2 separate regions of the Homo sapiens genome follow, and region 1 is linked to region 2. The links come from fine-mapping of genetic effects on gene expression. A gene starts in region 2. The other region holds a variant in brackets. All regions are shown on one strand. Distances are from middle to middle.

What was found. PIP is the estimated chance that this variant, and not a neighbour inherited with it, causes the effect.
Region 1: its variant is the best candidate, but not a certain one, in a credible set for the expression of MACIR in fibroblasts (GTEx, PIP 0.90).

The regions. Positions count from the first base shown.
Region 1 is chr5:103,981,089-103,986,473 of GRCh38, reverse strand. No RefSeq gene overlaps it. Among named protein-coding and RNA genes, the nearest start is that of NIHCOLE, 97 kb to the left of the region's middle. The variant C/G (reference allele first, on the strand shown) is at 2,968.
Region 2 is chr5:103,255,944-103,261,328 of GRCh38, reverse strand. MACIR (macrophage immunometabolism regulator) reads right to left here and starts at 2,566. Exons shown (of 3, transcript NM_033211.4): 1 at 2,433-2,566. RefSeq lists silencers at 1,806-2,185, 2,396-2,905.

The DNA of each region.
Region 1 (5,385 bases), 730 kb before region 2:
GACTTGAGATTCAAATGCAGAATTTTTCCCCCATTTTAAATCCCACCCAAGACCATTCTAACGGCTCCAGCTGTGATAGAATAGTCTTGATTCTAATCACCAACAGCTCACAGTCATAGTCATGGACAGCTGAATCCATTTATACTGCACATGTAGTGTTGCTTCTCTATTTCTCTATTCTGATTTTATGGCTCTAGGGAAACTATAACCTTTTATGGCCTTTCCCTCTACTCTTTGACCAGTCAATACTTTAATAACTTCAAATGTTTTTACTCTTCTACCCTAGATATTGAAAACAGATATGATTTCTATTGTTTTAATTATATCATCTATTCTTTTTTTTTTTTTTTTTTTTTTTTTGAGACGGAGTCTCGCTCTTTCGCCCAGGCTGGACTGCAGTGGCGCTATCTTGGCTCACTGCAAGCTCCACCTCCCGGGTTCATGCCATTCTCCTGCCTCAACCTCCCGAGTAGCTGGGACTACAGGCGCCCGCTACCACGCCCGGCTAATTTTTTTTTTTGTATTTTTAGTAGAGACGGGGTTTCACCGTATTAGCCAGGATGGTCTCGACCTCCTGACCTCGTGATCCACCCGCCTCGGCCTCCCAAAGTGCTGGGATTACAGGCGTGAGCCACCGCGCCCGGCCTATTCTTTTACATAATCCAGGTTCTAATACCTATCAACATCCCAGGAGTTAACGCTACTTTGCTATTAGCCTTCTGAAAGGAAACCCCAACTTACTCTATTTCATCCCATACCTTGACCTTGGATGTTGCATTGATTGGATTTTTTTATTCTTCATTAAACTGACGTGTTGATCCCTGATAGTCTCAGAAGTTTAGCTCTAACAGAGGTGTCAAATCCATATCCCTCTGTGAAGATTTTTTTTAAATTGATAGCTGTAAATTGATTTTGGATAAAGTCCAATCTCCCCAAACTATTTTTTTATACAGAAATAGCTAAAGCTTAAACCTCAGTGTGATGGCTTGTAATTTCCTATTATATAATTTCCAGCCACATGATGTATGTTAGCCTTCTCTCCTCTATTCTACCCCCTCCACCCCTGCAACCAGACTCATTTACTTTAGAGTTCATAGGCTGCCACCAAATAAATGGTGTGCAGTCGAGTGATGAACAGTGCTGAGAATCAAAATGAACAAGATGTCCCAAGTTATGTGGATTGTTTCAACATATGTCTCTAGGCAAGACAATTGCCATTTTGCAAAGAAGATAGAGATGCCTTTTAGAATCACATCAAACCTAATTCCCATTCCAATAGGTAAGAGACATTTTTAACACTCAACTCAAAGTAAACTTGACATGTTGTTCAAGTGATTTTTTTCTGTGTGATTTTGCATACCAAAAATTAATAAGTAATTTTTGAAAAGCTTTTAAAAAATTAACGCTCGAAAAAAACAAGATGTCAAACTGTATCTAACTTCATCATATTTATAATCCTCTGCAAACCTCACTCACATTGAAAAGTGTGGATTTGCCTAAGATTAGATTAATCCCTGTTTACACATATCACATAATTCTATCTCTTTCACCCCAAGGGACACCACAGAGAATTTCTGAGACATGAATGAGCATGCTGATTTTATTCCAAATAAAGTGTAAAGACCTAACAAATGTTCATTATGATAACAGTAGAATACAGAAAAGAACTGAAATACCACTCACCAGTCATCTATTACTCTCAGCCAGACATGTAATTTCATTGACAATCCTGGTTTCAGACGTACAGTCTTAGGTAATTTCATGGGCATATTCTCTACCTCATGACTTCTCAATTTTAAGAAAGTGTGCTTAAGTTTATCAGGATTTACAATATCCTTTTAAGGAAATAAGTTCATTAATTTATGGTAAATGATAAAATACTACCCCTTAATATAAAGACTACATATAAACACTTACATTTTTCTCCAAATTTAAAATAATAATTGGTAAATTATTCAGGGAAAAATCAGATTGTTGAGCCCTCTATGAGATGACTAGAAAGGAAAAAAAAAGTTAACATTCTAGAAATGTATTGAATTCTTAACACAATATTGTAATATTATTATGTTATCTTTATCATACAGATTATTTAAATGTACGTTCATAAGAAGGACAAATTTTCATATATGAAAGAGTTGGAAAGTGATAAATTCATCATAATTCAAAACCAGGTTCCTGTGACTTCAATGGCTGGGTTTTCTTTTGTTATATTTTCTTTTTAATGTTAACAGCTCCTGGAAAAATGAGAATAACTATAAAAACCTTACATAGTCTATAAGGTTATGTATTTATTTAATATTAATTAAAAATATCTCTTTCATTGTTATTAAATTGTTAGTGTGAAATAAATAGCAAGTTAAGAAGTCATTATGTCAGTACATTTATCTAAATGTAGGTAAAGCTAGCTTTACATTTTATTGTTTGAGGACAAAATCACTGTATTGTATCACAGCATGAAAGAAAGAAAAATGGTCCTGAGTTGTGATTTGAAAATATAACAAATTACAGAAGTTGGATTGTCATTGTGGTTGCTTTATGAATGAATGGAGTCATTTTGTGATGTTTATTGAAGAGCTTATCTGCCCCTTCCATCTCTTTATTGGATATTTCAAACATATCTGGGTGTTTTGGGAGTTATGAGTCTTTTTTTTCTTTTTATTATTACTATAATTTTAATTTCTGTTGGTACATATTAGGTATTATTTATGGGGTACATTAGATATTTGGAAATGGGCACGCAATGTGAAATAAGCACATAGTGTAGAATGAGGTGTTCATTCCTTCAAGCATTTATCCTTTGAGTTACAAACAGTCCAATTACACTCTTTTTTAAAATGTGCAATTAAGTTATTATTCACTATAGTCACTCTATTGTGCTATCAAATAGTAGGTCTCATTCATTCTATTTTTTTGTACCCATTAGCTATTCCCACCTCCCCGCCCCATCCAGCTCTCCCCTTTCCCAGC[C/G]CCTGGTAACCATCGTTCTACTCTCTATGTCCGTGAGTTCATGATTTTTAGATCCCACAAATAAGTGAGAACATATGATGTTTGCCTTTCTGTGTCTGGCTTATTTCACTTAACATAATGATCTCCAGTGCATATGTACCACATTTTTTTATCCATCCATCTATTGATGGACACTTAGGTTGCTTCCAAAGCTTAGCTATTATAAATAGTGCTGCAGAAAACATTGAAGTGCAAGTATCTTTTCAATATACTAATTTCCTTTCCTTTGGATATATACCCAGCAGTGGGATTGCCTGATCATATGCTAGCTCAATTTTCAGTTTTTTGAGGAACCTCCAAACTGTTCTCCATAGTGATTGTACTAACATACATTAAGTTGGGAGAAGTTTGGCTCTGGACTCTGTCCATCCTATCCCATGTCATTAGGGCTCTAATCCTCATATTTCTAGATCTGCATTCCTAGATCTTTGCACAAGCTGTTAGCATCCAAGTAAATTGTCCTAGTTATGGCTGTCATTCAATCATAAAGAAACAGTTGGCTGGCTGCAGTGGCTCAAACCTATAATCCTAGCACTTTGGGAAGCTGAGGTGGGTGAATCACCTGAGGTCAGGAGTTCGAGGCCAACCTGACCAACATGGCAAAACCCCGTCTGTACTGAAAAAACAAAAATTAGCTGGGTGTGGTGGTGGGTGCCTGTAATCCCAGCTACTCAGGAGGCTGAGGCTGGAGAATTGCTTGAACCCAGGATTTGGAGGTTGCAGTGAGCCAAGATTGCACCATTACGCTCCAGCCTGAATGACAAGAGCGAAACTCCATCAAAAAAAAAAAAAAAAAAAAGAAGGAAACAGCATTTGAGTTCTTGGTAAGATAAAAATTTAGGGATAGGAACTGAGAAGGGATGAAAACATCCCTTTTCCTCCTTCCTGCCATATATAGAAATCAATACTAGGGTAAATGGGAGTAAAGCCTACTCAAACCTTCTCACATAGATGGCTTCTCTATGTTTACCATATTTGGAAATAGAAGGTTACACATTACAGGGCCAGTCAAATGAGTGCTGCTTTATTGATTAAGGGCAATTCATATGATTCAGAGCAATGTTGTAAAGAGTCTGAGGGGAATCAGCATTTTGTTCAAAACTCTATAAAGTAGCCCAATTTTAAATTCAGCATGGTGAAAATGTGCATGGCCAGCTCAAGTCAAGACCATTATAATAAAAGCGAGAGGTAAAATTACATATTCCCTAATGAAATTTAACATAATTAAACTAGGTTTTTAGGCTTCATCTTTATCTATACTTATATATTTATATCTGTGTGTATATATATAAAGGGAGACTTTAAGGATATATATAATGTCCAATAGCCTCTGCCCTGCCTAAATGTCATTGAATAGTTACAAAGACAGTAACATGTTGTTGTTTTAATATTGTATTCAACTTTATCTATTAGAACAGTTTTAGATTCACAGCAAAACTGAACAGAACAAAGTGACATTTCCCATATACCACCTCCTCGCCACCTCATTCATAGCCTCTCACATTACTAACATCTTCCACAGAGTGGTACTTTTGTTATGGTTACTGAACCTATATTTCTACATCCTTTTACTCTCTTCAGGCTGCTATAACAAAATACCATAAACTGTGTAGCTTATTAAAAAAGAAATTTATTTCTTATAGTTTTGGAAACTGGGAAGTCAAAATCAAGGTGTCAGCAGATTTAGTGTCTGCTGAGGGCCCGCTTCTTGGTTCATTGACAATCATCTCTTTACTGTACACACATGGCAGTATAGAAGGACTAGCCAGCCCTCTGTGGTCTCTGTCATAAGGGTGTTAATCCCAATCACGAGGGCTCCACTTCGAAAAGGTCCCATCTTCTAACACTATCACCTTGAAGGTTAGGATTTCAACATATAAATTTAGTGGTGGTGGGGATAAACATTTAGACCATAGCACACAACGATATAACCCAATGTCTATAGTTTACAATAGAGTTCACTCTTGGTGTTGTACATTCTATTGGTTTGGATAAATACATAATGACATGTATCCACCGTTATAGTATCACACAAGGAGTAGTTTTTCTGACCCTGAAACCCTCTGTGTTCCATGTATTCATTTCTTCCTCTCCCCAGCCCCCAGCAATCACTGATCTCTTTACCATCTCCATAATTTTGCCTTTCCGGGATGCCATATAGTTGGAATCATATAATATGTAGCTTCTTTTTGTTTGTTTGGGTTTTTTTGAGACCGAGTCTTGCTCTGTCACCAGGCTGGAGTGCAGTCGTGTGATCTCAGCTCACTGCAAGCTCCGCCTCCCAGGTTCACACCATTCTATTGCCTCAGCCTCCGGAGTAGCTGGAACTACAGGCGCGTGTCACCACGCCCGGCTAATTTTTTGTGTTTTTAGTGGAGA
Region 2 (5,385 bases):
ATTTGCAACTTGCAAAAAGTAAGTCATCAATACTCTTTAAGAAGAGTTAACTAGGGTGTGACTTTTCTGAAACCATCCTTGACCTTACAAACAAACCATTAACCTTGCCAACTTTGTAAGATAACCCATAATTCGTTCAGTAAGACAAAAATGTGTTTCTCTTTCTAGTATCAGTTCTTTTAATAGCAATCCACCCCCTTAAAGTGCAGCACTCATTATCTTTCCATTTCTGCTAGTAAAAATTAAACCTAGGTTACTAATATCTTCTTATCACGTGGTGTCATCCTTCTACTTTTAGAAAAATACTCAGTTTCACTGCAAATATGACCGACAGTAAGTGGAACTAAAGGTCAACATGCAGCCTTTACAAGAAATTTGTCTCTTAGGAAGTATCATCAAAATGGAACAGGTGTACACTGTGGAATTGGCTAATCTTTGGGAAGGCTTAAAACCAGGTACTCATTTTGATAGGCTGGTGACAAAATCAAAGTTCTCTCTGGAGGAAAGGAGCTGATCCCCCACCTCACCCCCAGCTACAAATCAGCAAAGAAATTTTAAACCCTGTACATAAAGCTTTATTACTCTAACCATATTAAGTACTTTTGAGTTAATTTTATAATAGCTCTCTAAAATACACAGAAATATACAAAGAAAATAAGCAAATTCATTGACTGTTATATAATATCAATAAATATATCTTATACACTGAAATAATTACTAACACTTTCATTTGCAATTAAATAAACTGTTAGCAAAAGCATATTCTATACATCAATTATTATCAAATTAACAGGTCTCTGTATTCATTAACTCTTATATTCCATCCTGTTCATTTTACTTTTCAGTTTATAATGCATTCACAGTTACATAATTAAAACACTGAGGATTCTGTGACACATTCATTAAACTTAATAGTGTAATCATAAATCGCGGCCAAAAGCTTCTGCCGTAATAACCAATACTATATTTTGAAATGACTGGGAAAATAAACTTTGCAAAAGGGTCATTTCTACCTCTATAGTGTCAATCCAGCATTACAGGATTTGAGAAAATAAAACAACTAACAACCCTAAATTGTAGGTTGGCTCTTCGGAAAAAAAAAAAAAAGGAAAATGAGTCTAGTAACATCAGAAATATGCAAGAATTGTTCTTTCAGCTAGGAGCGGCAAGCACACTGTAAAATGCCTCCATTCTTCCTGCTCAAATAAAAAGTTCCCAGCTCCAGCTTTACCTGTGCACCACACACACACAAACACACACACACACACACACACACACGGAAATCTTGGTTCCACCCAAATCAGTAACCCACTGGGTTGAAAACTGAGGTGGAAGGAGAGGCAGGGAGTCCCTAAGCGTGTGGAACACTAGCAAGGGGAAAAGGACGGGGCCATCATTCCCTTCGCGTTCCCATCTCCTTTCTGGCGGAGACCTGCAGATTCCACCACTAGAGAGAGTTTGGCAGCTTCACAATGGGGCCGCGTTGCTGGAGGTCTGACTGCCACCCGCCTCGAAACCCCTCTCCTCCGCTTCCCACCTGCCCCAAAGTCCACCCGCGACAGGTGGGGCGAGGGTGGCAATGCCCGACATCTGCCGCTTAAGCTTCTGGCTCGGACCGGGCCCCAATCCACACGCGCACACACGGCCACAGCCGGCCAGTCCACCCCCACTGCACCGGCAGACACTCGGAGGGCGCGGGCGGCCTCGCACGCGGGTTGCAACCAGGACGAGGAGGGTCGGCGAGATCAGACCGCCGGGGCTCGCCCTGAGGTGCTATCTGACCCGGGCAGTCGCACCCTGAGCGCGGCCGGGCACGCAGCCAAAGGTGCCGCCGGCCGGGGAAAGCTACTTCTCAAAGGGGCCTCCAGGCCCGCTGCCCCGCGGTGCGGGAACAGCGGCCAAGGGAGGGAGCGAGCGAGCGTGCGCGCCAACGCGCCCCGACTTCCGCACCGCGGCACCGCGGGAGAGGCGCTCCGGGTCGCCGAGTCCCCGCACCTCCCCAGCGAGCGCACGACGCGCGCACACGGGGGCGCACGCCCCCGCACACTCACACGCGCTGCACACTCACGGCGTCTGCGGCCCCACCCCTGTGCCAGGGAACCGCAAGCTCCCCGCACCCCGCGCGGGCCCCACCCAGTTTACCAGACCCCAGTCCCCTTCGGGTGCCTGGGAACCGGTCCACCAAGGCCAAGGGACGCTGGGGCCGCCCCGCCGCCCATCGCAGAAGCTGGTCCGGCCGGGTTTCCCCAGCACCGCGGGCATCGTGCGCCCGGCCCAGACACGAGGCGGAGAGGAAGGGGCGGCGCCGCGATTAGGGCTGGCACTGGGGATCGGAGCCTGGGGCAAACCCACTCCCCCAAGCCCCCCATAACCACCACCTTTTCTGCAGCACAAAAGGTTACAGACGGAGCCGTCGTCCCCGTGCAACCTACCGATGGCCCAGGGCTCCGCTGCCTCCGCCGTGCCCGGGGCTGCGGAGCGGGAGACAGGGGCGGGAGAGGCGCAGGACTGCGGCGCCGAGATCCAGGCAGAGGCCGCCAGCCGAGCCAGCCGGGTACCCTCTCCTCTCCCACCGCGCTCGGCGCCAGCTACCGCCCTGCTTAGTCCCCGCCCCCTCCTCCGCCTCCTCCTCCGCCTCCTCCTCCGCCCGCCTTCCCGCCTCCTCCCTCTGGCTGCAGAGGCGCAGCCCGTCAGCGCTGAGCCCGCCTCCTGCGCCCAGCTCTCAGACACCCGGAGGAAGGGCGGGCCGGCTGGCTGCAGAAAGGCGCTAAGAGGCCAGAAGAAGTTGGCGGGGGTGGGCGGGGTTGTTGACTGGTGGTGGGGAGGAGGAGTCGCAACACCCGCTCTCTAGTCTAAACCCAGCACTCCAACTAAAGAGCTCCAACTTGCGGACCTGGGAACACTCCGGCTTCCTCAGTTAAGTGGTGTGCTGATATTTGTCACTTGTGAGTCTCTGCTTAAAGGGCTCAGCACTAAGCAAAAGTACAGAAAACTAGAAGGCCATGAAATTAAAAATTATAGGATCAGTCTACGAAAACTCGTAATACCCAGTGAAGGTGGCGGGGTGGGGCGGGGGGGGGAGTTCAAATTCAGATTCTGATTGGATTAACTATTTTTTAATTTGCACAAATGTTGATCTTGTCTATTATTGTAATAAATTATTTTCTTTGATGAAGATTTGCTTCTCTCAATTCATGTACATTTCTGCCGAACTGGTTAAGCTCAGCAATAAGAATATTTACTGGCATGCATATCCAAATTTACATCTCTCAATAACCATTCTGTGAGGAAGTAACCAATTATGATCCACATTTTAAAAATGCAGAAAGTTTAGGTCATATGCCTACTGAGTGGCTAAGGCTGAATGTGTACGCAGTCGGTGAACCCCAAAATTGTTTATAAGTGTTATAAATTTCGGTACCAGTGTCCAATCAAGAGAGTTTTATTTTTTAAAAGACAAAATGCTTTATCTTAACATAAAAGACATAAATCTGGAGTAGATTAATATAAGTTTAAACGAGTCTTGATTCACACTTGTTCCAGAATCTACATATGTTCCTGATAATATAAAGGCAAAAAATATATAAACACCTCTAGTCCAACAGAACCACTCCCGGAGGCCGCTCAGCTATAAGCCATTTTATGCTACTGCTTATGTGCCCTAAAATAAGTAAAGGAAGGTAGAGGGAAGAATAAGTTTTAAGGAATGTTCCCTAAACAATTTTACAAAACATCAGTTACTTTTTTTCCCGACATAGATTTGCATGTAATTTCAAAAATATAGAAGCTAGCACAACATAATATGAATAAATAAATGAAGAAACTTTTTTTGCATCAGTACATTAGGAGAATACACCGAGAATTATTTCCGATTATAATCTGTTTGACACAATAGTGTATTGTCCTGATGATCATTCTCATAAAACCACCTCCAAAACATTGTATATTTTATATTAAGAGACTTAATTTCATTTCTTCCTGTCTGAAATCTTATAACTTTTTCAGAAGAATGTCTTGTACTTGCCCTTTGCGCTGAGAGTTTGGCAGTGTGCTTTGGCCAAAAGCAATAAAGTTCCCCTCTTAGTTTATTAGGCTCAAGGCTAGCTCTCTTGAGGGCATTGTCTCCAAATTGCCTCCCTCCCTGGGTGGTGTTCTATGCTCCCATCCTAACCCTGAATCTTCACCCAATCAGAACCTAAGTCAGTTCTTGAGTGTCACAAAGAACACCTAATAAACCAATTCACCATGCAGTAATGGTTGATAATAGCTTTATGTGTGGCTCCATCAAGGATATGTTTATGCCACCTAGAGATACTGACTGGGTATTGTCTTCACTCGGATTGGATGTGGGTTGCAAGTGCCGTGGCTGAGGGGCATATAAGAGGTGCAAGTTAATGCAGAATCCCTTCCCAGAGCTTTTTAGTGTTTTAGGAAGATCTCTTCAACCTATAAAGAAAAATGGCATTCATATAAAGGGTTAGGCCCAAATGTAGAATAGACCCAGAGCCCTGAAAGGCCTTCTGAATTTGGGGACTCAGAAGCTCCATCTCACACACTCCTTGTGTAAGTTATGTCTTTGCCTCAAGGCATCCTTTCCAGAAAATCCCTTTAAAATGACTTTAAAATGTCAGCTGCCTGGGAAATATTATACTACGTTGATGTAAATGATGTCGGCTAGCAAACAACCAGCTTGAGAGAACAGAATAGGTGAATTTGATAACAACATAATGATGTAAAACAGAATCTACAAAGACAGGTGTGCAAGAAATACCACATTACCTTCTTTTCTATAAACTCATTTGTTTCAAGCAGGGTCTAACCAGGAAAACAGAAACCATTTTGAGTATCTACAGAAGTAATTGAATGCAAGAAATTGGTAACGTAGGTGATAGGAAAAGTCAGAAGCTAATCAGGAGATGGCACAGTAATCCAGAAACTAGCAACTGCGACCTCTAGCTGGAGAAATAAGAGAAGAGGCAGGGTTATTGGAGTCCAGGGCCCAGGCAGCATGGCCAGCCTGGTGAGAGCTGCGGCCATAGAGGAGAAACAACCACTGCCAAAGAAGCAATCTAGGGAGGGAGAAGGGGGAAATGTACTATACGTTCTCCTCTCCTGCCCTCCAATCTCCTTCCAGTGCCTTGCATTGGCCAAGTCTGATACACCTGCCATGGGAGCCAGGGAAACAGCCTACGGGGATCAGCCCTTTGAGACACTGAGGAGACTAGGAGAAGAACATAGAACGTGAATCTGCACTTGATTTTATTTCTCTTTAAAGGCCTTACTCTTTTGTAAAGTTCTTCCCTCATTCCCTCGAGCAGGGTCAAAGTTCCAAGAGCATATGCCAGACCAGACCATGAATGGGTGATGATGGCAGGGAGTGGAGGG